Regions from separate parts of the Homo sapiens genome. Here regions 2, 3, 4 and 5 are each linked to region 1. The links come from fine-mapping of genetic effects on gene expression. A gene starts in region 1. Each other region holds a variant in brackets. All regions are shown on one strand. Distances are from middle to middle.

Region 1 (5,100 bases):
ACATGCTCCCTGGGCAGGGGGAGCCGGGCCTTCCTGGTGTAGCACCTGGGGCCCCATCGGCCCCACCTGGTCCTCCCACTCTCATGGACAAACTCCAGAGAAAGGAGGCCAAGGCTCTTCACCCTGGGGACCCACAGGCGTGCGGGGCTGCAGGAAGAGCATCCTGGTTGCAATCTAGGGCTGAGGTGGCCTCTGCTGAGCAGGCTTGTTTCAAAAGCTCCGGCTTCTTGGCGGCCCGAAGCTTCCACGCAATCCTCTTAGGCTGCCGAGCTAAGTCCCTCTGGCAAAGGGGGTGACCCCCATCCTTGCACCCCCCACAGGTAGGGAGGCGTCTGTTGGTATTGGTCAGTGACCAACTCTGGGAGCCTACTGCTCTGACTGGTGGAAGGGTGGGTGGGGGCATGGCTGTGGTCCCAGGCACAGCTGAGCCTAGCACAGAGAAGCTGGACCAGGGTTAGGGGGGCCCTGCAGCAGGAACGTGCATCTGTGCAGAGCAGACTAAGTGCTGGGCCGGAAGCAATCCTTCAGGGGCCCTAGACAGGCAGCTCTGTGACCGCCAAGTGTAGAATGTGGCTGTAAGAGGCTCAGAACATCACCTCCCAGGCTGGGAGCTGCAGTGTGTGTGTGTGTGTGGGTGTGTGTGTGTACAGTTGGGGGAGGGGGGAGAAAGAAAAGTGGGAAGATGCCCCTCCAACTCTAGGACCCCAATTTCCTGACAGCCTGAGAAAGACCACAGAGCAAGGATTGAGGTCTGTGCAGGGGAGCAGTGTCTCGGACTCTGCTCAGCTCCAGGCTGGCTGGACCTTCCAGGCTCCCCAGGCACACCTGAGAGCCTACAGCCTCTGGACCCAAGAGTGCCAGCCAACACGCCTACAACCGCCCAGCCTCCTACCACCAGCCTGTCTGCAAATTCAGTCCTAAGGCAAATTTGGAAGAGAAACAAAAGGCAGACAAGAAGCCCTGCTCCTGGCCCTTCCCAGCCCAGACTTTGGGGAGAAAGGCCCCGCAGGGCATCCCTGCAGGACGAATGGGCACCAACAGGAACAGGAGGAAAATAACCCCAACTTTAACTGCTGGAAACCCAGCAGCACCCCAGGTTCCCCTACAAACGGCTTCCCAGAAGAGCTGCCCCGGCACCCCTCCCATGCTCTGTGTCCTCACGCAGCTCAGCTCTGACATGGGGCTGGGGGACCCCAGAGAAGGGGTGTGGCAGCACAGGTTCCCTGGACCAGCTCAACTACCCCCAACCTGGCTGGTAGCTTCCTGGGGAAGGTGGTCCCCCATCGGGTGGCTTTTGTTCCTCTCTCCAGGCAAGCCTGTGCCTGGAAGAATTCGGCTGGCAGGCCCCACTGGGAGGACAGGCGGTACTGCCTCCTCCCCGCCCCCAGCCCCAGGTCAACAGGGCCTTTGTTCTACCTGCACACACCGGCAGGCAGGCGGGCAGAGCCAGCCCCCTTCCCTGGCAGCTCCCCCACCCTCTGAAGGCAGGCACTCCAGGCACAGGGGCGGCACCTCACTACTCTCACTTCCACTTTTGGGACCACAGCACCGAAGCGGCACGGGGAAGCCAACACTCCAGGTAGGCCACGCACACACCCAGAAGCCCGCGTCCCCAAGTCCGGCGGGCCAGACCTCACGGCGCACAGCAGGTAAGGTGGCCCGAGGGCAGCGGGCGGGGACCCTGGAGAAAACCCGGGCGCTGCGCAGTCAAGCCGGCAGTAGGGCAGCACAAGGCAAGGAAGAGAGTGAGAGCGAGGTCAGAAAGCGCGGTGACAGCCGGCTCACCCAGAGGAGCTGGGAGCCTCGGGCGCTCGGCAGGTCGGGAGGGGTGCCGGCGAGTGGGGGCCCCCAAGAGGGCAGAAGGGGGTAGGGAAGGCAGGGCCGACCCAGTACAGCACGGCGGGCATACGGCCCGGCCTCGGGGGCGCAGCTGCGCGAGGATCCCGCCGCCCGGGCGCTCACCTGGGCGTGCGCAGCGCGGCGGAGTCGCGGCGGTCCAGCACGCCGGGCACGCAGTTGGTGAGCTCGGTCCAGTCGGCGTGCAGCCCGCAGCTCCAGCCGGTGGAGAAGCGGGAGAAGAGCCAAGTCTCGCGGCGGTTGGGCCGGTAGCAGGTGCACTTCTTCTGGCCGGGCCGGCAGTCGCACGGCACCTCGAGGCGTACGTTCTGCACGAGGTGGCGGCCGAAGGTGGTGCCGCCCGTCTTCTGGATGTGCAGGAAGACGATCACGTCGTCGCCCTTCATGTCGAAGCGCAGCGAGCGCTCCAGCTCGCGGACCGGGAAGTAGTACTTCTTCTCGTAGTGGGGGTCGGGTGTGGGGAACAGGTCCAGGTCGTCGGGCGGCGCGCGGCCGCCGGGCGCGCCCAGGCTCAGTCCTGGGCCCGCGTACTGGTACAAGATGAGCATGAAGCACACCGAGCCCGCCACCACCAGCACGAACTTGCTGGCGCGCTCAACCATGGTCCTGCCGCCGGCGCGCCGCCGCCGCATGTGTCACCATCGCCGGGGCCCGGGCGCGGGGCGCGGGGCCTGGGAGGGCAGGAGGCGCGGGCGCAGCTGCCTCCGCCGCCGCCCGCGCTCCGGCCCGGCCCGGCTACTCGGCGCCCAGGCCGCCCGCAGCGGCGCGGGCCCCGACCCTCCGCGGTGCCATGGCTGCTCCCCGCCCGGCCCCGGCTCCCCGGGCCCGACGCCCGACTCCGCTCCCGCTCGGCCCCGCTCCCGGCCCCGGCCAGCACAGCGCTCTCCGCGCCCCCAGCACCAGCCCGCTCCGCTCCACTCCGCGCCGAGAACGCTCTGCGCCGCCCCGCGCGCCGCCGCGTCTCCGCAGTCCGCCGCCGCCGCCCCGCCCCGGTCCGCCCCTGGCCCGCCCCCGTGGCGTCTCTTGCCGTCGCCGCCCGCGCCGATCCTCGGCCCCGCCTCCGGAGTGCCGGGGTTCGCCGCGGGTGCTGGGCGCGGGACCTGGGTCTGCTGCGGTGGCGAGGCCGCTAGCAGGCGGGCAGCCAGCGACTGGGAAGTGATTCCGCCCTCAGGGGAGTGGGGGACCAACCGGCAGTGCGGAGCCGAGGCGTGGGAGGCTCTCCTGGCGGGGGCCGCGGTGAGGGGGCGCGGCGGCTGGCGCTTCTGGAGCCTGGGTCCGTACCCCCTCCTCCCCAAGTCCCAGCCGCCCACGTCCCCGCAGCCCGCGCGGGAGGAAAGGCCTTGACCTTGCACGCTGGGGCGCTGAAGTTAGACGCTAGCCTACTGGGCTGCACTTCCAGGGACCAGGGCGGCGGGGGCCGCCCACCACCAGGACCGAGAGGGAAAGCGAGGCTTTCCTTTCCTGCTCGACCCCCTCACCCCTGCGGCTGGCTTTGGGACAGTGCCCCGCAGCCCCGCATTGAAGAGATGTTGGGCTGTCTGCAGAGGCCTGCGGAGCGGCTTTATGGCTTCCTCCTTGTTTGAAAAGAATATCAGACGAGGTGCATTTTCCCCCATCCATGTTTATTATACTCCAATGAAAGAGTTATAAAACATTGAGCCAATTCTTAAGAATCGTGAGTGCCCACCAAATATTCTGTCTTTCGTGGGTTGGTTGGAGAGTCCAGCGGCCCGGGCCCAACCTGGCTGCGGAGGGCTCGCTCCACGTTGGCTCGTGTGTGGGCCGGGTGGTGCGGGCTCCTCACTCGCCGCCGCCCAGCCTGGCAAGCACGCGCGGCATTCGTGGGGCGGGGGGTCCCGCCAGGTGCCCACTCACACTGCTTGGGCTCTGGCAGTACTCGGAGGCTGCAGCCCGTCGGAAGCGCAGGAGTGGGGCTGGGACCTGCCAGGATCTCACAGCTGCAGGGCCGGCCGCGGTGGGCCCTAGTGTGTTGGTTCAGGCCAGCGAGGGCTCTGGGAGCGAGTCTGGCTGCCAGGCGTGGGCTCCCAGTGTCCACGTCAAGCCCTGCCGGGGACGGGGTGGGGGGGGAGGCGGGGTGGTGCCCTGCCTTCCGTTCTGTTAGGGACCGGAAGCGATCATGGGGTGTCAATTATGCCTCAGTAAAGCTGTTAAACGTAGACAACATCACACCAGAAAGCCCTCCTGGAAGCAAACCCAGAGAGCTGGAAAAACCAACACCCCAAACCCAGCTGAGCGGGCGGCATGCATTTTCCAAAGGGACCGCAAGAATATCCGCTGTGGACAGGCGGGTGCAGAACCCTCAACACAGCCCAGCGCACCCTGGAGTCCATGGTGTGGGGTCCTCAGTGGGACCTAGGGCCCCAAAGCCCCTGCTCATCTTGTAGGCTGCTTTAAAACTGTCCCTGGCCCGAGGGTCCTGGGGGCAGCTTGGACAAGCTTCTCCAGAAGTGACTCATTCCTATAGGAGTGGGGGTGCAGTCCCCATGGGACACAGGTGGGGCCGCCCTGCAGTGTGCTTGGACCTGCCTGCAGCCCCTTGACGCAGTCTGTGCCTGAGCCCTGGGGAGCCTTCCTGTGTGGCCTAGGGGAGCACAGCTGCCCCGGGTCCACCCCCCAGATGTCCTTACCCAGATAAGGATCCTCGTGCTACATCATAATTAAGGCTGCTCTTTTGGAGACCTGCTGGGTGCCAGGCATTGTAGAGGTGTCATTTCCAATTCCATCAGCAAATCTGCGGGGGTAGGCTGTGATATCCATTTACAGAAGAGAAAACTGAGGTTCAAAGGGGTTAAGACCCTGGTTCCAAGGTCAACCACTCTCACCCCATGAGAGTCAGCAGAGCTGGGATCCTGATTCCTGCTGTGAGCCCCAGAACCCTCCCCTTCCCCACCTCTGCACTTGCCCCAGCTCCCTAGGCCAGGGATGAGAGCGTCTACAGGGGCCACTCCTGAGAGCCTGGTGACCGTCACTGCCACCAAGGGGGAACGTGGGCCCAGAGTGTTCAAGGGAAAGCTGGAGCAGCTCCGAAGGCCAACGAAGCCATCGGTACTTGGGCCATGGCTCCACCCTGTGATGATCTCACTGTCCCAAGGGGGAAACTGAGGCCCAGGCAGGGACGAAGTGCCTGTGATAAGGTCCCACCCTTGAATGGGAGCCAGAGCAGCCTGACCCATGGAGCAACATCTCCCAGAACAAGCTATTTAATCCAACTTCATACCTGCC
Region 2 (5,100 bases), 130 kb after region 1:
GTGGCTGGGACTCTCAGGGTGAAGGCAGGAGATGGGGAGGCTGGAGAGAGGGACAGGAGCACCCGGGGGTCCCAGTGTCTTTCTCTGCTACCACCCTCCAGGGGCCGTCAGTCCAGGTGTGGGGAGGCAACTTTGGGTGGGGTATGGCCCCTGCTGATCACCCACAATGCCTGCCCTGGGTCTGGAGCTGGGCAAAGGGACACTGACCGGAGGCCACTGTTCTGCCTCCCTTGGGCTTGGCTGGGGCTGCCCAGCAGCAGTGGACACATTCCCAGCCATGGCCCCCGTGGGTGGTGCCGCCTGCTCTGAAGACAGCCCTGGCCAGTCCCCTGTCCAGGCAGACCATCTCCCCTGTCAGCAGGGCTCAGGAGGCCACCACACCCAGGTACATCTCAGTGTTCATTCATCCACCCAATCATTCCTTGGGAGGAACATCGACACCTGGGCCTGGGCAAGGTGCTGGGGAGCCAGCCCCATAGCTTTATGGCAGGAGCAGGTGGGAAGCAGGACCCACAGTATTATGGTGGGGGCAGGTGTGGGGCAGGACCCCACAGCGTTACAATGGGGGCAGGAAGGGGGGCGGGACTCACAGTGGTATGGCGGGAACAGGTGGGGAGCAGGACCCACAGTATTATGGTGGGGGCAGGTGTTGGGGGGCGGGACCCACAGCATTATGGTTGGGGTAGGTGGGGGGGCAGGACCCACTGCGTTACAGTGGGGGCAGGTGGGGGGCGGGACCCACAGCATTATGGTGGGGGCAGGTGGGGAAGTGGGACCCACAGAGCTATGGTGGGGGCAGGTGGGTGGTGGGACCCACAGCGTTACAGTGGGGGCAGGTGGGGGGCGGGACCCACAGCATTATGGTGGGGGCAGGTGGGGGGCGGGACCCACAGCGTTACAGTGGGGGCAGGTGGTGGGCGGGACCCACAGCATTATGGTGGGGGCAGGTGGGGGGCGGGACCCACAGCGTTTCGGTGGGGGCAGGTGGACACACACAGGCTTTGGAGCCACGCAGACTAGGATCAAATCATACACTGTGGGTGACCTTTAGAAAGCCATCGAAGATCTCTGGGCCTCAGTTTCCTGAACAGCAAAACAGGGCTAACTCTTGTCAGATGGCTGTGGGGCTCCAGGGATATGGTGGCTATGAAGGACCTGGCAGGTATTAGGCCCCCACCAGGGCCCCAGGAGCTCAGCCCAGGTGCTCTTCGTTTACCTGGACACTTCAGGCAGGCTGCGCCACAGGGCCTTGGCACGTGCTGCCTCCTCCCTGTCACCCCAGCACTGCCCCCTGCCCTGCCGTATCCTCTCGCCACAGTGCTCAGTGATGTCCCACGGAGATGGGTGTCTTTTCTTTCCCTCGCCAGAATGTGAGCATCGCCAGGGCTGGGGTTTCGATTTGCTTTGTTCCCCCAGTCTCTTCCATGCCCAGAACAGTGCCTGGCCAGTGGCAAGGGTGAGGGGTGCTGCTGAGTGGCTAGAATGTCTGAGAGCAAAGCCATGGCCATTTCTGCTCACTAACCCTGAGCAACAGGAGAGGGGTCTGGGCCGAGGGCCTTAGTGGAAGGGGGCTGTCAGTCCTTTTGAGCCTTCATGAGGTGGGAAGAGAGAGGCTGGGCCTTGGAATCAGAGAGCTGGTTCCACCCCTGCAGGGAGTGCAGGTGGGAGGCTCAGGCCCCAGGTGAATCAGGCTCTGTCCCTGCCTGTGAGAAGCTCCTGGTCTGGAGGGGGCCCCAGCCATGAGAAGAGTTGGAAGCCACCCAGGATGATGTGAGAACCAGACCCAGACAGTGACTTCCCGGGTCAGGGTGCCCCTTGGCAACCTCAGACAGCTGCTTGGCAGTAGCCCAGTTGGCCCCTTAGGGAGGCACCCCCAACCTTCCCTGGCCACGTGGGTGGGTATTCATGGGCCTGGCTGCTGTGTAGGTCAATGAGACCCAGGCTCCTTAGGAGCTGTGTGCTGGCATGTTGTCTCTGTCCTCAAGAGCTGTTTCCCCCTGGTCATTACAGGTACACGCAGATGGCAGAGGACCTGTAAAACCCCTGAGGGGTCAGGGACGTTGCCTGGGCTGAACAGTTGAGGGATGCAGCAAGGGACTAAGTCAGGGTGCCCACCCCGGCACACACAAGCATGGGCCTGGGATTTACCAAAGGACGGAGTCCTCTGTCAGTGATGAACACGAATCTTCCTGGGAGAGGGGCCCGAGCTGGATCTGAGTCCTGTCTGGCTGATGCCCTCTGACTGTGGGTGGTGACTGGCTCACTGAGCCTCAGTTTCTTCACCTGTAAAGCGGGCGTGGTAACAGTACGGCCTCAGGGGCTGTCTTGGGGTAGAGTGCACACTGAGCACTGCTTGTTCTCGCAGTTACCATGGGGATTCGAATTCACTCCACGGCATGAACCACATGTGCTGGAGGGGCCTTTCCCGAGATCTTTTTGGATGGTGGAGCCTCTGCAAGTAGACTGTAACCAAGAAAGGAGGGCGGTGGGCCCAAGGCACAGCCAGCCCTTCCCAGTTGCGTGAGTGGAGGAGCAGTGGGTGGTGGCCTTGCTGGAGAGAGAAGCCTCCGGGAGTGGGCCTGGGCCCCGTGCTCCTAGCCTGACCCTCCCGGTCTGAACTGAGCCATCTCAGGGAAGGCCGTCTATAGAGGGCAGGCTTAGTGGGGCTGTGGCGCTGTCTTCCCAGTGCTGGTGGGGATATACCGCAACTCCGAAGCCC[C/T]GCGTGTGTCTGGCTCCCAGCCCTTCCCTTCAGAGGCCCAGGCCTCTGGCATCAGGCTTACTTCCGGCTCCTGGCCAAAGCTGCAGCAGCTCCCAACAGGACAGTGACATCTGTCTCTGGGATCAGAAAGTGGTGGCTGAGGCTCACCCCATCCTAAACAGGAAGAGAGCAGGCAGACGAGGCTGGGTCCCTGTCACTAAGGCCTCTACAGAGGCAGGGCCACTCAGGGTGGACATGGCCACCCAGAAGTGTGGCCTGGGCTGGGCTAGCCTGGGAGGGTGAGGAAAAGGAATGGATGAAGAAGACTGGGAGATGCACCTAGCTTTGATGCCTCTGCTTCATGGGTCTCTTTGATGCCTCTGCGTCATAAGGCTGCTGTATGCTCTCGCTGGATGGTGCGTTGGATGGCCAATGGCAGGCAGACAGCGTTCCCGCCTCGGCTCTGAGACCAGGCATCTCCTCAGCACAGAGGGCCCCACTCCTTCAGGGGTCACCACTGGAGGAGCCACTACCTCTTTCCTTGAGTTATCACAACAATCCCAGGTCACTCCCAGTGTCACCCCGTTTTACAGAAGAGACAGCTAGGGAGTTGCGGAAGCTGCTCATGAGTGCTGGGTGAGGGCCAGACTCAGGGTCCTTCTGCAATAAGAACCCTGCCCCCCTGGGCCTGGGGCAGCGGCTGTGTTTTCAGGAAGGTTGCACAGAATTTGGATCTCTGCCCCACTTCCGCCCCTGACTTAGGCGTCTTCCAGAACCCCCTAATCCCCTGCTTTATCTAAAGAAATGAGTGCTGCAGAGAGCTAGCCACAGGCTCCAGGGAGCCATTTCTAATGGGAAAACATGCCCATTTGCCTAAATGAATCAAATCCATTTCTCTCCCATACATATTTCATGGGCTTCCTCTCTGTGTAATTTAATTATCACTGTTGTTAGTGTTAATGCCCTGGTTGGTGCAGCTCTGCTCCCCAGACCCTCTGAGCCTGATGCTGCAGCAGGGCTCGAGGAGGAGCCGGAAGAATGGAACCATCGCTATGGCAACAGGATGCCATAATATTTCCTGATGATCTATTGCTTTAATCTTGAGGGCTCTGAGTATATTGCCAGCATTAATAAATAAATCTAAATAACACCCTGGTGAGATTGATATTATTCTATCCATTTTACTGATGGATAAACAGCAGCTCAGGGGGGTTAAGTGCCTCGCCTGGGGGATGGGTAAGAAGGACTGTGCTGGAGATGTGTGCGAGGGCCACACCGGTTTCTGGGGGCCCCAGTGTCCCTGCTGGAGGGGCTGGGTCAGTGCCCTAGAAGCCTTCTGGGAGCCGGTGGCACCATGATGTTGGAAAGTGCTCTGGACATATTTACATTTGTGACCCTGTGTCTGGGTTGGGGCCAGCCCAACTTCTGGTAGTGGCAGCAGGAAGGGCCCTCCGGCCTTAACAGGGCTCCTGTTTCCTAAGTCCAGAATGTTACCCTGAGATGTTCTGTGCTTTGGTTTCGGTGTGTTCAGCAATACATTTCCTTGGAAGAAATAGCCTTTGATCCAGTCCCAGCGTCACCTTGTTGTGAGAGTAACCAGGATGAGTCTTGAGTCTGGGTTTTAGAAGTGGAGGGCAGGAGGGGCAAGGAGGCAGGTGCGTTCTGTGCCTGGTGTTTAGGTGGGTGAGCCCCTTGCCCCCTTCCCCAGCTGCATGCAGATATGTGTTCTTATTTTTTATTTTTCCAGCTAAGGGCTTGAACCTCCCCCACCTTATTTAGGAGGATTTCCAGCCCCTCTCCCTCCGGGTGAGGCCTCCCCGCCCTTTGGCTGTCCTGGGTCTTACTCCACTTAAGAACTTAGTCCCATTTCCTCTGTGGCTGCCTGACCCCACCACATAGTGTCACCGCTGAGCATGGGTCCTATGTAGCCTGATGGTGGCTTGTCCAGCCTGTTCCCCTCACTTCTCGCACACTGTCTCTCACCTGCCCAGTGGCCGGTCCAAGCGCAGTCACTTCTGCACTGTTGCTGCACTCAGTCCAAAGCAGCTGCTTGGTGGCTTCAGCCTCACCCCACTCAGCCTCCCACAGATCCTCAGTCCATCAGCGTCCATTACATACCAGCCTTTGTTACCCACCAGCCTCCATTACCCACCAGCCTCCATAACCTACCAGCCTCCATGACCTACCAGACTCCATTACCCATCAGCCTCCATTACTCAGCAACCTCCATTACTCACCAACCTCTGTTACCCACCAGCCTCCATTACCCATCAGCCTCCATTACCCACCAGCCTCTATTACCCAGCAGCCTCCATGACCTACCAGCCTCCATTACCCATCAGCCTCCATTACTCACCAACCTCCATTACTCACCAACCTCTGTTACCCATCAGCCTCCATTA
Region 3 (5,100 bases), 42 kb after region 1:
TACAACATGCATGTCAAATGAGGATTTGGGAACTCCGCTTGTCTTTTCCATCTTCCAGCTTTTTCAGAGGTATATTCGTGTCCTGCCTCAGACTCCTGGGCTCTCACACTTGACCTTAGGTTTTGGTGGCTGAGAGGGTGGTGGTCAGGTAGCCTGTGAATCCTGGCCCCACCATCAACCAGCTGGGCACCCTTGGGCATGTCACTTACCCTTTCTAAGCCTCTGTTTTCTCAATTACGATGTATTTTGGGTGAAGGTTCTGCCTACCTTGCCGGGCTGGGAGAATGAAATGGGATGATTTTGTAAAGGGCACTCAATACGTTTCAAGTCTCAGTAGACAGAGGTGAAGGCAATGCTCTGCCAATCCTTTGCTGTCCGTCTGTTCACACTGAGCCCTGGAAGCTGTACATGCCCCTAGTTTAATGATCCCTTTCTCCTTTCCCCATTGCTGTCTATGCTTCTGCAAATGAAAATGTAACTTTTTGACCGGGAGCGGTGGCTCATGCCTGTAATCCCAGCACTTTGGGAAGCCAAGGCGGGTGGATCACCTGAGGTCTGGAGTTTGAGACCAGACTGGCCAACATGGCGAAACCCCATCTCTACTAAAAATACAAAATTAGCCGGGCGTGGTGGCGCATGCCTGTAATCCCAGCTACTCGGGAGGCTGAGGCAGGAGAATTGCTTGAACCCGGGAGGCGGAGGTTGTGGTGAGCGGAGATCGCGCCATTGCACTCCAGCCTGGACAACAAGAGAGAAACTGTGTCTCAAAAAAAAATAATAACTTTTAATAACTAGTCACTGAAGCCAAACCATCATCATCCTCTTGGGCAAAAGGTTTATTGGCATTTAGCTTCCTTCTGACAGCTCCTGCCTATGCGGGGGAAGGTAATGCCAGCAGCCTCACACTTACCTCCTCCCAGCCTGCTTCCTCCAAGGAGAGACTGCTCAGAAGCCCTGGGGAATGGGGAGGAATATGGAGCAGGCTAGGTCAAGTCTACCAAGAGTAACCAGAAGTAAGGGCGGGATAGGCTTTCAGAGTGGACCCCAAACCCCACCGCCACCAACCAGAGCACGGGAGACCAATGAGGACCAGGCTGTGGGGCCCTCTGGGACGGACCACTCCAGCAGCATTGAGTCTCTGGCTGGGTGAATTGACACTTGGCAGGGCGTGCCAGCCGTGGTTTTCTCGCGCCTTTCTCGCCTCATTGTGCTCTGGGCAGTCTCAGAGGTCCTGCCTCTCAGCCCTGAGGCTGTTTCACACCTCTGCCATTGCCTCTTCCTGCACCCAGGGCTTGCCTTTCCTTCTCCTGGGCATGAGGGCATCCTGGCTGCCCTCTCATAGCCTGGCTTCTGCTAGCCTTCTTCGTGGGGCTCCCAGCCCCTGGACCACAGCTGACTGGAGTAGATGCTTGGAAAAAGCTTGGTGGCCGCAGCTGGGTCGGGCAGCCGCTGCACCTCGGGCCTCAGCTAGACTGCTGCTAAAGGGCAGGGATATGGCTTGATGTGTGTTCTCTCCAAGCCTCACGTTGCCTGGTGGGAGGTGTTTGGGTCAGTGGGGTGGGGCCCTCATGACTGGCTTAGTGCCCTCCTTGTGGTAATGAGTTACCATGAGATCTGATTGTTAAAAAGCGTCTGGACCTCCCTCTCCTCTCTCTTGCTCCCCTCTCACCATGGGACATGCCTGCTCCCCTTTCCCCTTCTGTCATGTGTGAAAGCTCCTTGAGGCCTCCCCAGAAGCGGAGCAGATGCTCCCAGAGCCAATTAAACCCCCTTTCTGTATAAATTGTCCAGCTTCAGGTATTCCTTTACAGCAACACGAAGTGGATTGGCCGTCGGTTTTGGGGTCAGTGGACCACGTCAAGTCTAACCTGTTTGACTCAGTCCACTCCCTTCTGGAGGGGCCCTTGCCCTGTCAGTCTGCAAACCACCAGGCTTCTTGCTGCTCCACCTGTGTCCCTGCTCAGCATGCCTGGCGGCCGTGGGACCCTGAGTGTCCAGGGCACTGATGCCAATGGGGAGATCACAGCCGATTTCACCAGAAAGCAGGGCATCCTGACAACAGAGCCCAGGCTTCCCCATGGCACCAGCGCCCAGCTGATGGCCCGTGCCCCCGGGGCCTCTCCAGGCCACAGGCTCGTCCTCTCTCCAACCCTGGCCAGACATCTTCTCCCTTCACTTGCTTGAGTCCCATCAGGGGCTCCCCAGTTAGGCTGGTGCTTCCAGAAGGTGGAGACCAGATCCCCTGCCTCCCAAGTCCTGATGGCACCTCCTGCAGTTCTTTGCACCTTGTTCAGTCAGGGGTGATGTAGTAGTGTTCTCAAACTTTTTGATGCCAGCACCCCTTTACACCCTTAAAAATAGGGAGGACCCTAAAGAGCTCCTGTTTTGTGTGCGTCTTTTCAGTGATGTGCCTCAGCTGTCTCACCAGCTGGCAAGAACTGACTGTGCACTTTCTTTCCACCTCTGCACCCAGTGATGTTATTTTGGTGGCTTAACATCGATCATGGTGAAAATATTTACACCACGGAAAGTGGCAAATACTGCATAGTGGGGCCCTATGGCTTGGAGAGCTGGTGGTTTAACATC[T/C]TCCAGCACTCCGTGGTTACAACTGTGTTCACTACATTAGAGTTTAAAACTGATAAATTTGCAAAACACGGGAAGACAGAAGCACACGTTTTGTCAGCCATCAGGGTGAGGCTGCGTTATGCATCAAGAGCCTCTGAAAGCCCCCTGGATACCTCTGTGAGAAAATGCATGAGAAAGGCAAATCAGGGCTCCGTGTTACTGTGAAAGTAAGTCCGGTCTTTCTGATCCCTGGAAAGATCCTGAGACGCTGGGGGGTCCCCCAGGCCGCCTTTGGAACATCGCTGGTGTAGACTCAGATGTGGGTCAGGCTGTCTGCTTCATTCTGTGCTGGCTGAGTGACCTTGGGCAAATCACACACCTTCTCTCAGGGTCAGTTTCTTCATTGTGAAATGGAGATGATGGGGTTATTGAGGTCTACAGGAGAGAGACTGCAGAAAGCCCCAGGCAGAGCTCGGCCCTACAGAGGCTGCTCCGCCATTGCAGGTCTGCTCTGTCCTTCCCAGTCTCCTGCCCCAATGGCTGGAGGCCGCTGGGCAGAGCCCAGCTGGTTTTGCAGGAGGTGATACAAGTGTGACACCGTGTCATTCATACAATGCCCATCGTAATTTTCACAGTATCATGGGTATCTGTACTGTTATGGACTGAATGCTTGTGCCCCCCAAATTCATACATTGAAGCCCTAACTCCCAATGTGAAGATCTTAGGAGGAAGTGGAGCCTTTGGGAGGTGATTAGGCTTAGGGGAGGTCATGAGGCTGGGTCCTGACCTGATGATGGGATTAGCGCTCTTCTAAGAAGAGACACGGGAGACGATCTCTCTCCACCATGTGAGGATACAGTGAGAAGGTGGCCACCAGCAAACCAGGAAGCAGGCCTTCACCAGGCACCACATCTGCCAGCACCTTGATCTTGGACTTCAGCCTCCGGAACTGTGAGAAACACGCATCTGCTGCTAAGCCTCCCAGGCTGTGGTACTACCTTAGAGCAGGCAGAGCTGACCAGATAGCTCCCTGGGTGCATGTGCTTTATGGAAGCACTTCAGCAAGGGTGGTGGGGACAGCAGTGGTTGCCTTCATCCTGAGAGACAAGCTGAAAAGAGAATTGAGGGTACCCTGGGAGGTGAGGAGGGTCCTCGGTGGAAACTGGAGGGTCATGCAGGTAGGGGGCACGGGCCTTCCATCGCGTGGTGGCCCAGACTGATGTGCTGCTCTGTCCCCAGCTTCCTTGAGCAGGGAGAGGATTAAAGCGGGGCCAGGGCAGAGCCAGACACCTCTGTCCATCTGGTGTGTCCAGGAGGCTGGAGCTTCCTGTGAGTGCAGAGTGCACCACCGAGCGTGGCTGACCTGGTGCTGTGCTGTGGATGCACCCAGGAGGGCTGGGATCTGGCAGGCTTGGAACCTTGTCGGGTGTATCCTCAGGGGAAGAGGCCACCCCTAGTGCAGTCCCTGGCACTGCAGCCCTAAGCCTCTGCTCTGCCCTGAGACAGGAGCGTGGAGGGGAAATGCACATTTAACTAGACTCCAGTGCACGGACACCTTTTCTTCTGGACTGGATTTTTATACTTGGATGTGTCTAAAGAGAGATTTAACACATATGGCTGAAGGCAGTGATTGGAGGAAAAATAAAATTGTTTTGCACTTGAGCCACTGAGATGAGATTCTTAGGCAGGCTCACCGCACGTGTTTAACCTCCCAGCTCCTCTAGGCCCTGTGCAGAGTGTGGGAGGGCTCAGTCCAGGCAGGAGCTGCTGGAAAGATGCTTTTGTCCTGCCTGCTGTCCCCTGTCTGTCGTCCTGTCTACCATCCCATCTACTGTCCCCATCTGCCGTCTCCATCTACTGTCCCCTGTCTGCTGTCCCATCTACCGTCCTCTGACTACTGTCTCCTGTCTGCGGTCCCCTGTCTACTGTTCTGTCTGCTGTCCCCTGTCCACTGCCCCCTGTCCCCTGCCTGCTATCCCCTGTTCCCTGCGTGCAGTCCTCGTCTGCTGTCTCTTGCCTGCCATCCCCTGTCTGCTTTCCCTGTCTCCTGTTCCCTGTCTACGGTCCTCTGTCTGCCATATTCTGTCTGCTGTGGCCCCTGAGGGCTGGGCCTTCCTGAAGATCATGGCGTTGGGATGGTGTCCCCCAGGGCTGCATTACCAGCGATGATTAGAGCCAGTGTTCCTCCTTGGAGCTGCCCCACTGAGGCCTGCAGGCAGCTCTGGGGGTGCGCAGAGGAAATCTATGTGCTAGGTTGGGGGTGGGGCAGGAGTTCCACCCTGTCTTGGGAGGGTGGGGGGTGGGTTTTCCTTCCCAGACCACCCTGGAGCCCCAGCTCCACTCTCTGACTCCCAGGAGGCTGAGTGAGCTGCGGTGCAGGCAGAGGCCTGAGAAGGGGCACATTTTTGAGATTCCAAGCATGTCTGCATCCTTTCCAGACTCAGCTCCGGGGAAGGCAGGAGCGGTGCGGAGTTGGTGGCTTGGGCTCCAGTCAGTCTCCACCCCAAGCGACTGGGGTGGGGCTTTCCAGAATGT
Region 4 (5,100 bases), 30 kb before region 1:
GTCCCAGTGTCAGATGGATGAACAGGTGGGATTCCTGCTCTGCCAGCTGTCCTGTGTGGCCTGGGGACAGTCACCCTGGCCCCTCTGAGCCCCAGGGACTGTCTCCATAAAACTCGTAGACAGAAAGCCACTTCCCAGACTGGCGATCTGGTGTGTGGCGTATGTAGGGAGACTTAGAGCCTACAGCACCCTGCAGGGGTGAGGGCTCATCCAGCCCAGGACTGGCGTGGGGGACCCCAGCAGGTGCAGCAGATGTGAGCTGTGTGATCTCACCTTGTCACAGTCCCTGTCCCATCCAATCTGCCATTCCTATTCCTCCCTCCCAGGGGGAATCTATCGTGGCCGAGGTCTGCGGGCTGGAGCCAGGGTCCTGCTCTCACAGCATCCTGCAGGGCCAGGAACATAGACACTAAAGACCCAGGCAAGCAAGCGCCAGGGAGGGGTGGGTCAGGGGGCCTCATCAGACTGCAGGTCAGGAGCTTGGAGGACGAGGAGGAGCAGGCCTGGCAAGGGGGCTGGGGAATGAATTCCAGACAAACCTGCAGAGCAGCAGAGGACAGGCAGGAGGCCGGGCAGGGCCCCTGGGAGCTTGCACTGCACGCCCAGGCTTTGCAGGCCATCCAAATGCACGGGTTGGTCAGAAGAGGAAATGAGTTCATGGTTTCAAGGACAGGACACTGCTATTAAATGGTGGGAAAAAGGAAAACTTCTGACCTTGTGTCAAAATACTGACTTGTTAAAAAATAAAAAACAAGAGGCTTTATTAGCGTAGGTTTAGGAAATACCTCCTCAGCCCCTTCCCTAACAACGTCTGCAAGCGGGTGAAAATCTTTGCTGGCTTTACAAACAAGGTCAGCAAAGGTTTCAGAAAACAGAGCAGGCTGCTGGCCACGATACGCCTTGCCTCCTGCAAAGCTGTGCCCACCCAGATAGAGAAACCAAGGCCCCACCTGGTTGCCTGGGGAACAGCATCCCCCAAAGCAGGAGGCCCCTCTGAATGCCTCCTAGGAGCCTGAGACTCCCACCTTCCCCTTGGGGTGGTCGGGGAGCAAGTGACCAGGAAGCAGAGGCCCCACACTGGGGGAAGCCCAAAGCTTTTCCTTCAAAGCCCCCTGACCTGCATGATCTCATTGCGCCCTGACAAGGAACCCTCTGGGGCAGGGGGTGGCTTAGCCATCAGGTGGACACACACTGTGGGGTGCCATGCAGGCCACACCCGCCACACCTCCACAAAGGCACTGATGGGAAGGAAGCGCCCAACCCCTCCTGGTCCCAGGAATGGTCACTCCCATTCCTGACCAGGGCAGTCCCCCTGCAAGAGCACCTCAGTGGATATATCCAGGGCCCAGGGCACTCCCCCAGAGAAGGTGCAGGTGAGGCCCCTTCCCCTGAGATGCACTGCCCAGCTGTGGGCAGGGACAGCTGCCCCCCCTACTCAGTGAGGGTGAACGAGACCCCCAGCAGGTCCCCTGACGGGCTGCTTCTCCAACAGCACTGAAGTGGGGGTGCACAGAGAACTGGGCAGAGAGCCGGGATGTGAGGCTTAGGACTGCCTCCACCTAGCAGGTGTCAGGTAAGGCTGTGACTTCTGGAGGTCCTAGAAGTCACCCCCAGGGTAGGGGCCACAAGAGGAGGTGCTGACAATGTCCTCCCAGCAGGGCCAGCTAGAGACGCCGGGTCCAGGGGTGCTCTGCACCAGCCCTCTTCAATGAGGGGAGAACAGGCGGATGGCTTTCTGGGAGCTTGACCCTGTCCAAAAGCCCAGCATGGCTGTGAGCAGCCCGGGCCCAGATGCTGCTGACTGGACACCTGGAATGGGGCTCTGCCGAGGTCTTCCATGAGCAGAAGGGGTGAGGACCACCTCCTCACCTGTGTCCCACTGCCCTTCAGACTCTCCTGCCTGCTGCTCCAAGGCAGGGCTCCAGCAAGGCCATGAGGGCCCTGCGGGGCTGCTCGCCGGTCATGAAGGCTGCCCATTCATATTTCACACCTGCCTGCCTGGCACTTTCTGGCTTCTGACACCGGCAGGCGAGATGTCACTTATGCCTGAACGCACACACTCATACCTTGGGGTCAGGAGAAGGTGACAGTGCCCTGCTTCTTCACAGGGCACGCAGTCGAGCAGCAGGGCAGCTGACTAGGGGCGGGCTGGCTCGGCCTGAGACCTGTCTCCAGAGCCATGGCCTCCTCTTGTCCTGGCCAAGAGCTCTGGGGCTCACTCCTTCTGCTTCTAGGCCTTTTGCTGAGGCTATTGCGAGGACTCACGTGGCCCTTCCTCTTCCTTACAGCCTGTAACTACACATCCACCATGGCTGCTTGGGCCCACCAAGAGAGACGTGGAGGCCCGAGAGGGAGGCTGGCGGCAGCGTCAGGTCCTGCCGGGGTGTGCAGTATTTGTACCCTGCTATGAAACTGTCCCTGCCAGGTGAGAAAGTGCTCAGGGCCCTGAGGCCAGCCAGCACGACTTGATACCTACGCCCGGTGACTCCATGGCAGTAGAAAAGCACAGCCCTTCTGGGGACTCTGCATTAACACAGAAGCTCATATCTGTGTGCACAATGGGCAAAAGAGCCACATCAAAGCTTGTGGGTACAGCCTGATGCCAACTCTGGAAAACACATCAACTGGAGAGATGGAGCAGAAATGCAACCCGCGCCAGGTGCCCTGGGCCTAGTGCCCTGGGCCATTTTTTCTTTTACTTTTTCTGTATTTTTCCGATTTTATATAACCATGCATGTATTAGAAAACAAACAAACAAACAA[A/AACGATAATGTAC]ACAATCTAATCTGACTTTCTCACAGGAGGTAGGAGAGTCAGGGAGGCCTGGGAGGCTCAGGGCCTCCCCAGCAGCCTCTCAGGACATCTCCAAAGCCACAGGATCATCACCAGTAATCAGCCTTTCTCGGGGTCAGGAGGGCGAGAGCTCATCTGAGGATCACTGGGGGTGTCCCTGGGACCCCTCCAGGCTCCACCTCCTGCTGACCCCACAGCAACTCATGTCAGGGTCCGAGGCAAAGTCCTGGTTCTCACCCACGACCCCACAGAGCCTCTCTGCAGCGAAGAGGGGCTGACACCTGCTCCCTCAACCCCCGAGTCCATATAAACACAGAGGCGGCCGCGGAGAGATGGCCTTGCATGCTCTTGAATGTAGACTATTCTTCCCCAGACAGGGAAATTCAGAGCCTAAACAGCCCACCCCAGAGATAAGCCATTCTGTGCCCAAGCTAACTGCAGTATCCAACTCTATACTCCCATGGCCCTGGCTCTACTTACAAGGAGGGCGACAGCTCCGGGTGATGCACTGAGAAAGCTGTCACCTGAGCAGTGACCCTGGGGACTCGGGAATGCTGACTCTCCAGAACCAGCCATTTTATGGCCCCCCATCAAGCACTTCTGTGGTTGGTGCCTCCAAAAAAGGTTAGGGCCCAGCAGGCATTTGCTCATTTTATTCCTGCAACCCCGGTACGGTCGCCACTATTAGATCCCCCTGCAGATGGGCAAATGGAGACTCAGAGATCCTTCTGCAGCCAAAGTCTCCCAGATACCAGAGGTGTCTGACTTCATAGGCCACAAGGCATGTCTGCTGCTCACCCACGTGCACGGTCCCTGAGATGAGCAGCACGAAGCTCCCAGGAGAACCCGGCGCGCCATTGGCAGCACCAGAAAACAGGTCTCCAGCTTGCTAAGGGATCTGCCATCCAGCAGCTGTGTGGCCCTGACGAGTTCCCCAAGGAATGCATCTGTCATCTGTTTCCTCCTTGCACAAAACAAGACAATATGCCTCCTGGAGGTCACAGCATGACGCTCGGCATGAGGATGGGCCCACCCCAGCTGGCAGGGAAAGAGAGGAAGCTGCCGGAACAGACCTACCTGCTTTCACCAACCACAGGCCAGAGGCACCAGGAGAACATGTAAGAGATAGAGAGAGGATAGCTGTCAGTCAAATTATTTGTATAAAATGTCCAAATATAAGTCACAAATAGCCCGATAATCTCAAAAAGCAAAAATCAAAGCAGTAGTTTAAAATCTTCCTAAAATATTGAGGAAATGCCTGCAGCTTACATTCAAATGATTCTACTAAAATGCAAAAGCATGTATATAACTACATATATAAATATACATGTAAGTACACATGTATCTACAGATATACATATATGTAAACAGCAAGTGAGAGCACCCACTCACAAGCACAAATATTGCAAAATGTTAACAAGCAGTGGGTCTCGGTGAAAGGTATGAGGTTCACTTTACTACCATTTCAACGACTTTGTAAGTTTGACATTTTTCAAGATAAAAAGTTAGGGGTAAAATTCCTACAAAGAAAGTGCTGGGCTATTTCTACCAAATTTTAAAAGAACCAGATTTTTGTAAGCAAACCCTCCTAGACAAGAGTAAAGCAGTGGACACTCCCAATTCATTCTATGAGGCCAACATAATCCTAATACCGAAGTTGGACAAATGCACAAGAGAGGAAAATTGCAGCCTGGTGGACACATCTGCTAAGCTCAGAGTTCAAATATAGATACAAAAATTCCTCAACAAAAATCTTATCAAATCCAACCCAATTGAGCATATAAAAGATATTACACTACGACCATACTTAGTAACCCCAGGTATGCAAGGATGGCTTAACAGGAGAAAATCCATACATGTGACTCATCACAGCAACAGACTACAGAGCTCAGTAAATGTGTAAGAAGCATCTGCTAAAAACACTATTCATAATAAAAACTCTCAGGAAACTAGGAATAGAAGTCCCTTAATTTGGCCAGGCGTGGTAGCTCACACTTGTAATCCCAGCACTTTGGGAGGCTGAGGCAGGTGGATGACTTGAGGTCAGGAGTTCAAGACCAGCCTTGCCAACATGGCGAAACACCGTCTCTACTAAAAATACAAAAAAAAAAAAAAAAAAAAAAAAAAAATTTAGCATGCATGATGGCACGCACCTATAAAGAGGCTGAGGCGTAAGAATCACTTGAACCCAGGAAGTGGAGGTTGCAGTGAGCGGAGATCGTGTCATAGCACTCCAGCCTGGGCAAAAGAGTGAAACTGTCTCAAATTAAAAAAAAAAGTTCCTTAATTTGATAAAGTATCCCCAAAACCTAGAGCAAGC
Region 5 (5,100 bases), 20 kb before region 1:
ATCAGAGTACCGGAAGTTCTAGCCTGAGCAATCAGGTAAGAAAAATAAGTAAAAGGTATTCAGATTGGAAAGAAAAAAGGAAAGTTATCTCTCTTCTCAGATGACATAATCTTATATGTAGATAATGCTAAAGAATCCACTTCCACACACAAAAACCTGTTAGAGCTAATAAACTAACTTAACAATGTTGTTAAAGTAAAAATTAAAAGAAATCAGTTGTATTTCTATTCACTAGCAACAAACAATACAAGAAGGAAATTAACAAAACAATTATGTTTTTGTTGGCATCAGAAAGTGTAAAATATTTAGGAGGAGACTTAACCAATGAAGTGAAATACTTGTAAACTAAAAACTACAAAACACTGATGAAAGAAATTAAAGACAACCCCAGTAAATGGAAAATCATCCCATGTCCATGAACTGAAAGACCTACTATCATTAAGATGTAAATACTACTCATGTAATCTACAGATTTAATGAAATCCCTATCACAACCCCAACAGTATTTGCTGCATAAATAGAGTAACTTAACCTAAAATTCATATGAAATTTCAAGGGATTTTGAATAGCTAAAGTACTTGACAAAAAAGAATGGCTCATGTCTGTAATCCCAGCACTTTGGGAGGCCAATGAGGGAGGATTGTTTGAGCCTGGGAGGTTAAGGCTGCAGTGAGCCAGGTTCACATCACTGCACCTTAGCCTGGATGACAAAGCGAGACCCTGTCTCAAAAACAAACAAAAAAAACCCCAAACCAAAACAAATACAAAACAAAGTTGGACTCCCATTTCCTGATTTCAAAACTTAACTACAAAGCTATGGTAGTCAAATCAGTGTGGTACTGTCATAAAGATAGGCATATAGACCAATGGAATACGATAAAGAGCCCAGAAATCAACCCTTGCATATATGGTCAAATGGTGCCAAGACCATTCAATGGGGAAAACACACTCTTTTCAACAAATGGTGCTGGGGAAACTGGATTTCCACATGTAAAAGAAGGAAATTGGACCCTTATCTAACATTATACATAGAAATTAACTCAAAATGGATTAATGACCAATGGTAAGACCTAAAACTGTCAACTCTTAGAACACAGGAAAAAAGCTTTATGATACTAGATTTGGCAATGATCTCTTGAATATGACATCCAAACACAGGTAACAAAAGAAAAGCTAGATTAATTGGGCTTCATCAAAATTAAAAACATTTAGGCTGGGCATGGTGGCTTATGCCTATAATTCTAGCACTTTGGGAGGCCGAGGTGGGTGATCCACCTGATCATGAGGTCAGGAGTTCGAGACCAGCCTGACCAACATGGAGAAACCCCGTCTCTACTAAAAATACAGAAATTAGCTGGGCGTGGTGGCACATGCCTGTAATCCCAGCGACTCAGGAGGCTGAGGCACGAGAATCGCTTGAACCTGGGAAGCAGAGGTTGCGGTGAGCCGAGATGACACCATTGCACTACAGCCTGGGCAACAAGAGTGAAACTCTGTTTCAAAAACAAAACAAAACAAAAAATTGAAAATATTTGTGCATCAAAGGATAGTATCAACAGAGTGAAACGCAACCCACAGAATGGAAGAAAATATTTGTAAATCATATATCTGATAAGAGATTAATATCCAGAATATATAAAGAACTCCTATAACTTAACAACCCAATTAAAAAATGTGCGACATTTGAGTAGACATTTCCCCAAAGAAGACAGACCAATGGCCAACAAGCAGATATAAGATGAACATCGTTAGCCATTAGGGAAATGCAAATCAATACCACAATGAGATTCCACTTCACATCCATCAGACTGGCTATTATCAAAAAACAGGAAGAAATGTTAGCAAGGATGTAGAGAAACTGGAACCCTTCTGCAGTGCTGGTGGGAAGGTAAAATGGTACAGCTACTGTAGAAAGCAGTATGGTGGTTTCTCAAAAAAAATGAGATACAGAATTACCATATGATCTAGCAATTCCTCTTTTAGATATATTCCCAAACAATCTAAAAGCAGAGACTTAAACAGATATTTGTACACCCATGTTCCCAGCAGCATCATTCA[C/T]AATAGCAAGAAGGGAGCAGCCAAGAGTCCACTGACAGATGAAGGGATGATGAGCAAAATATGGTACATATAGACGATGGAGTATTACTCAGCCCTAAAAAGGAAGGCGATTCTGACACAGGATAAAATATGGATGAACCTTAAAGACATTATGCTAAGCCAGTCGTGAAAAGACAGTATCATATAATTCCACTTAAATCCGCTATCTAGAGTAGCCAAATTCATAGTCAGGAAGTAGGATGGACGGCGTGAGAGGCTGGAGGGAGGGGAATGAGGAGTTCGTGTTTAATGGGGTCAGAGCTCAGTTTGGGAAGATGAAAAAGTTCTGGAGACGGATGATGGTGATGACTGTACAATGTGAATGTACTTCATGCCACTGAACTGTACACTCAAAAATGGTTAGAATGGTAAATTTTATGTTATGCATACTTCACCACAATAAAAAACAAAAAAAGGCTTTCCCACAACGAGTGTCCTCAAGAGCCAAGTCCCAACAGCTTCTCAGGAGGGAAAGCAGCACGTCCCTGGGCGCGGCCACCCTGGGCCCACCAGTGGGGCTGGCCCAGGCCTAACCCACCCCTCACTCCCTCTCCCTCCTGCATGACTGTGTGGGGTACTCCTCGGCTCTCGGAATGAGAGGACCAGAGGCCAAGGGCACCAGAATCGGCCTCAGATGGGGCAGAAACACACCTGGACGTGGCCCAGGGCCGAGGTGTGACCTAGCCAAGGACCCAGTTTCTGTTCTTTGCAGGGACAGAGCAGGCTTCGCAAGTGCCTGCCTCCTGCCATGCAGCAGAGAGCACACAGCTCCCTCCTTGCTCTGCACCACAACTCCCCGACGCACCCCAACAGCATGGGAGGTGGTGTTCTGCTCTCCCGTCCTCCAAAGGAGCAAACTGAGGCCACAGCTGCACCCTTGGACACAGGCCCATCAGCAGGAGCGAGCCCTCTGCCCTGGCCGGCCCACTCTTAGCAAACTATAAGAGGTCAACACAACACAGATTGCAAATTATGCTGCTGAGGCTCTGCTGGCCCCAGTCTCAGTGTGACATGTGGGGAAACTGAGTGGATGGCAGGTCATGCCCTATCCTCCAGACCCCTACGCTGGACACTCCAGGCCCAATGAGGAAGAGCCACAGCAGCAGCTGAAGGCACATTGAGGCCCAGCCCCATGTGGTGGATGAGGAAACTGAAGCAGAGAGCTCACAAGCCGGTGAGGAGCACAGTGGATCTCTGTCTTTGAAGGCCACGCGTGACCTGTGCCAGGCCCCCGGCAGAAAGCTGGGGCACAGAGGGTAATCACAGTGGGCCAGGCCTGCCTGGAAAGACCCCAGCTGGCGGAGAGACAGAGGCACACAGGGTAGGGAGCTGTGGCTGAGAGGCTCATAACCCCTCCCCCATCCCGGCCCTGCTAACACAGCCCATCTGCCAGGCGGAGGCTGGGGGTGCTGGCGAGGGCAGCAGACCCCTGGGCTCTGAGCAGACGGAGGAAACACAGCTTGTGGCAGCACAAACACCAGCGCCAGCAAGGCAGGGTGGCTCTGGTGGGCAGAGGGCTACCCCACCTCCAGGCCGGGGTCTTGCCAGCCGCTTCCCATCAGCACTCAGATTGTCTTGTGAAGCCCAGGCTGGGGCAGCATGGGAGAGTCAGGCCTGGACCCGGGTGACACTCTGCTTATACTGCTGAATTCACCAAACCAAGGACCCCAGCGGCTTCCTCTGTAAAATGGGGGGCTTCTCCAAAGTTCCAAGCACACTCCAAGCTCCTGCAACCAGAACTACAGGCCCATCCCCAACCCACGGCATTAAGCTGAGGGCATAGCTGGCATGGACGAGGCTGTGCAGGAGGCCCACACAGCGGAGCCTGCCCTCCGGAGAGGGCCTGCAGCCCCAGGACACAGCTACCATCCCTACCTGGACCCTGGCAGGGATGGGACACTGGAGAAGAGGGGGGGACCACCCACCCTCTCCCAAACCAGCGCCGCCTTGGGCCATGCTGGTGACCAGGTGTGGCTTCCACAGTACGCCTGCCCCCAGCCCTGCACCTGGGCCACGTCAAGGGGGCCGTGTGTTCGCGGAGGTGTCTACCTGGGGCGCTGTGTGCACGGGGGTATCTCTGGGTTCTTGGGCCCTGAAGCTGAGCAGCTCCAGTCCCTCTCCCAGCAAGTAGGGAGGGACAGCTGGGACCCCCATAGGACTGTCTGTCTAGCACCTGTTGTAATTAATCTCTTCGGGGGAGGCTGTAACTAAGGGCAGGGTGGGCGGACCACCTTGAGTTACGCAGGTGGAGGACGAGGATGCCCAGGACTGGGCCCAACTTCTGCCCGGCAGCATCACCTGGCCACACCCAGGGCCCCTGCCATGCCAGCTGTGCCCACAGTCAATCCATGAGATGCCTAGGGCAGACCCTCCTCCCAGCTGCTCTGGGCGTGTCTCACCCTCCAGAGCAGCTAGCCCCACACCCCGTCTGAGCCTCCGCCAGTATCTTTCTCAAGGGAGAGCCGCCACCGTGTGCTGTGTGTGGTGGGGGTGGGTGCAATGGCACATGCCTAAGAAATGAGTGCCTCTGTCATTGTCATTAGCTGGGGAGGGCAAAAGAAAGGAATGGGAGCCCTGGGTCACAAAGTTTGAGGAGTCTGGGCTTTTGGCTGCTTGGGTACATGCAGCAACAGCCTCCTGAATGGTCTATAGAAACCAGCCTTCCCTCCCTCTGTGAGGGGCAGGGGTTTCTGGGGGCTGCGTAGCTCTAGCCGCCCCTCTGTGTGGGACTGGGGTCGCCGGGGGCTGCATGGCTCTAGCCACTCCTCTGTGAGGGGCAGGGGTTCCCGGGGGCTGCGTAGCTCTAGCCACCCCTCTGTGTGAGGCAGGGCTGCATGGCTCCTGTACCCCTCTGTGTTGGGCAGAGATCCCCAGGGGCTGCATGGCTCCTGCGCCCTGTGTGTCAGGCAGGGGTTCCCAGGGGCCATGTGGCTCCAGGCTACCCTTCCTGTGTCTGCAATGACAGCAGATCGTCTTTGGAAAAGCATCTCCTCTAATATCCTG

Alleles and levels. Alleles are on the strand shown, and positions count from the first base shown. SD is a standard deviation of normalised expression in the study named. Not every link is listed here.
As copies of T replace C in region 3, the expression in tibial artery of the gene that starts at base 2,794 in region 1 goes down (small effect, 0.26 SD a copy in GTEx).
In carriers of allele C in region 5, the expression in skeletal muscle of the gene that starts at base 2,794 in region 1 tends to be lower than with T alone (small effect, 0.24 SD a copy in GTEx).

Evidence for each region. PIP is the estimated chance that this variant, and not a neighbour inherited with it, causes the effect.
Region 2: its variant is the best candidate, but not a certain one, in a credible set for the expression of HS6ST1 in monocytes (BLUEPRINT, PIP 0.79).
Region 3: its variant is the best candidate, but not a certain one, in a credible set for the expression of HS6ST1 in tibial artery (GTEx, PIP 0.56).
Region 4: its variant is the best candidate, but not a certain one, in a credible set for the expression of HS6ST1 in thyroid (GTEx, PIP 0.53).
Region 5: its variant is the best candidate, but not a certain one, in a credible set for the expression of HS6ST1 in skeletal muscle (GTEx, PIP 0.57).

What each region holds. Positions count from the first base shown.
Region 1 is chr2:128,316,075-128,321,174 of GRCh38, forward strand. It overlaps HS6ST1 (heparan sulfate 6-O-sulfotransferase 1), which reads right to left and starts at 2,794. Exons shown (of 2, transcript NM_004807.3): 1 at 1,963-2,794. The coding sequence starts at 2,489. RefSeq lists an enhancer at 652-801 and silencers at 1,803-2,032, 2,727-3,136.
Region 2 is chr2:128,447,203-128,452,302 of GRCh38, forward strand. The region is part of intron 1 of LOC105373611 (a long non-coding RNA gene); the gene reads left to right. Among named protein-coding and RNA genes, the nearest start is that of HS6ST1, 130 kb to the left of the region's middle. RefSeq lists an enhancer at 1,205-2,196. The variant C/T (reference allele first, on the strand shown) is at 2,720.
Region 3 is chr2:128,358,055-128,363,154 of GRCh38, forward strand. No RefSeq gene overlaps it. Among named protein-coding and RNA genes, the nearest start is that of HS6ST1, 42 kb to the left of the region's middle. RefSeq lists enhancers at 3,381-3,920, 3,921-4,459, 4,460-4,998. The variant T/C (reference allele first, on the strand shown) is at 2,587.
Region 4 is chr2:128,285,937-128,291,036 of GRCh38, forward strand. All of the region lies in intron 1 of HS6ST1 (heparan sulfate 6-O-sulfotransferase 1), which reads right to left. Among named protein-coding and RNA genes, the nearest start is that of HS6ST1, 30 kb to the right of the region's middle. RefSeq lists an enhancer at 1,897-2,726. The variant A/AACGATAATGTAC (reference allele first, on the strand shown) is at 2,763.
Region 5 is chr2:128,296,335-128,301,434 of GRCh38, forward strand. All of the region lies in intron 1 of HS6ST1 (heparan sulfate 6-O-sulfotransferase 1), which reads right to left. Among named protein-coding and RNA genes, the nearest start is that of HS6ST1, 20 kb to the right of the region's middle. RefSeq lists enhancers at 3,608-4,206, 4,207-4,804, 4,805-5,100. The variant C/T (reference allele first, on the strand shown) is at 2,059.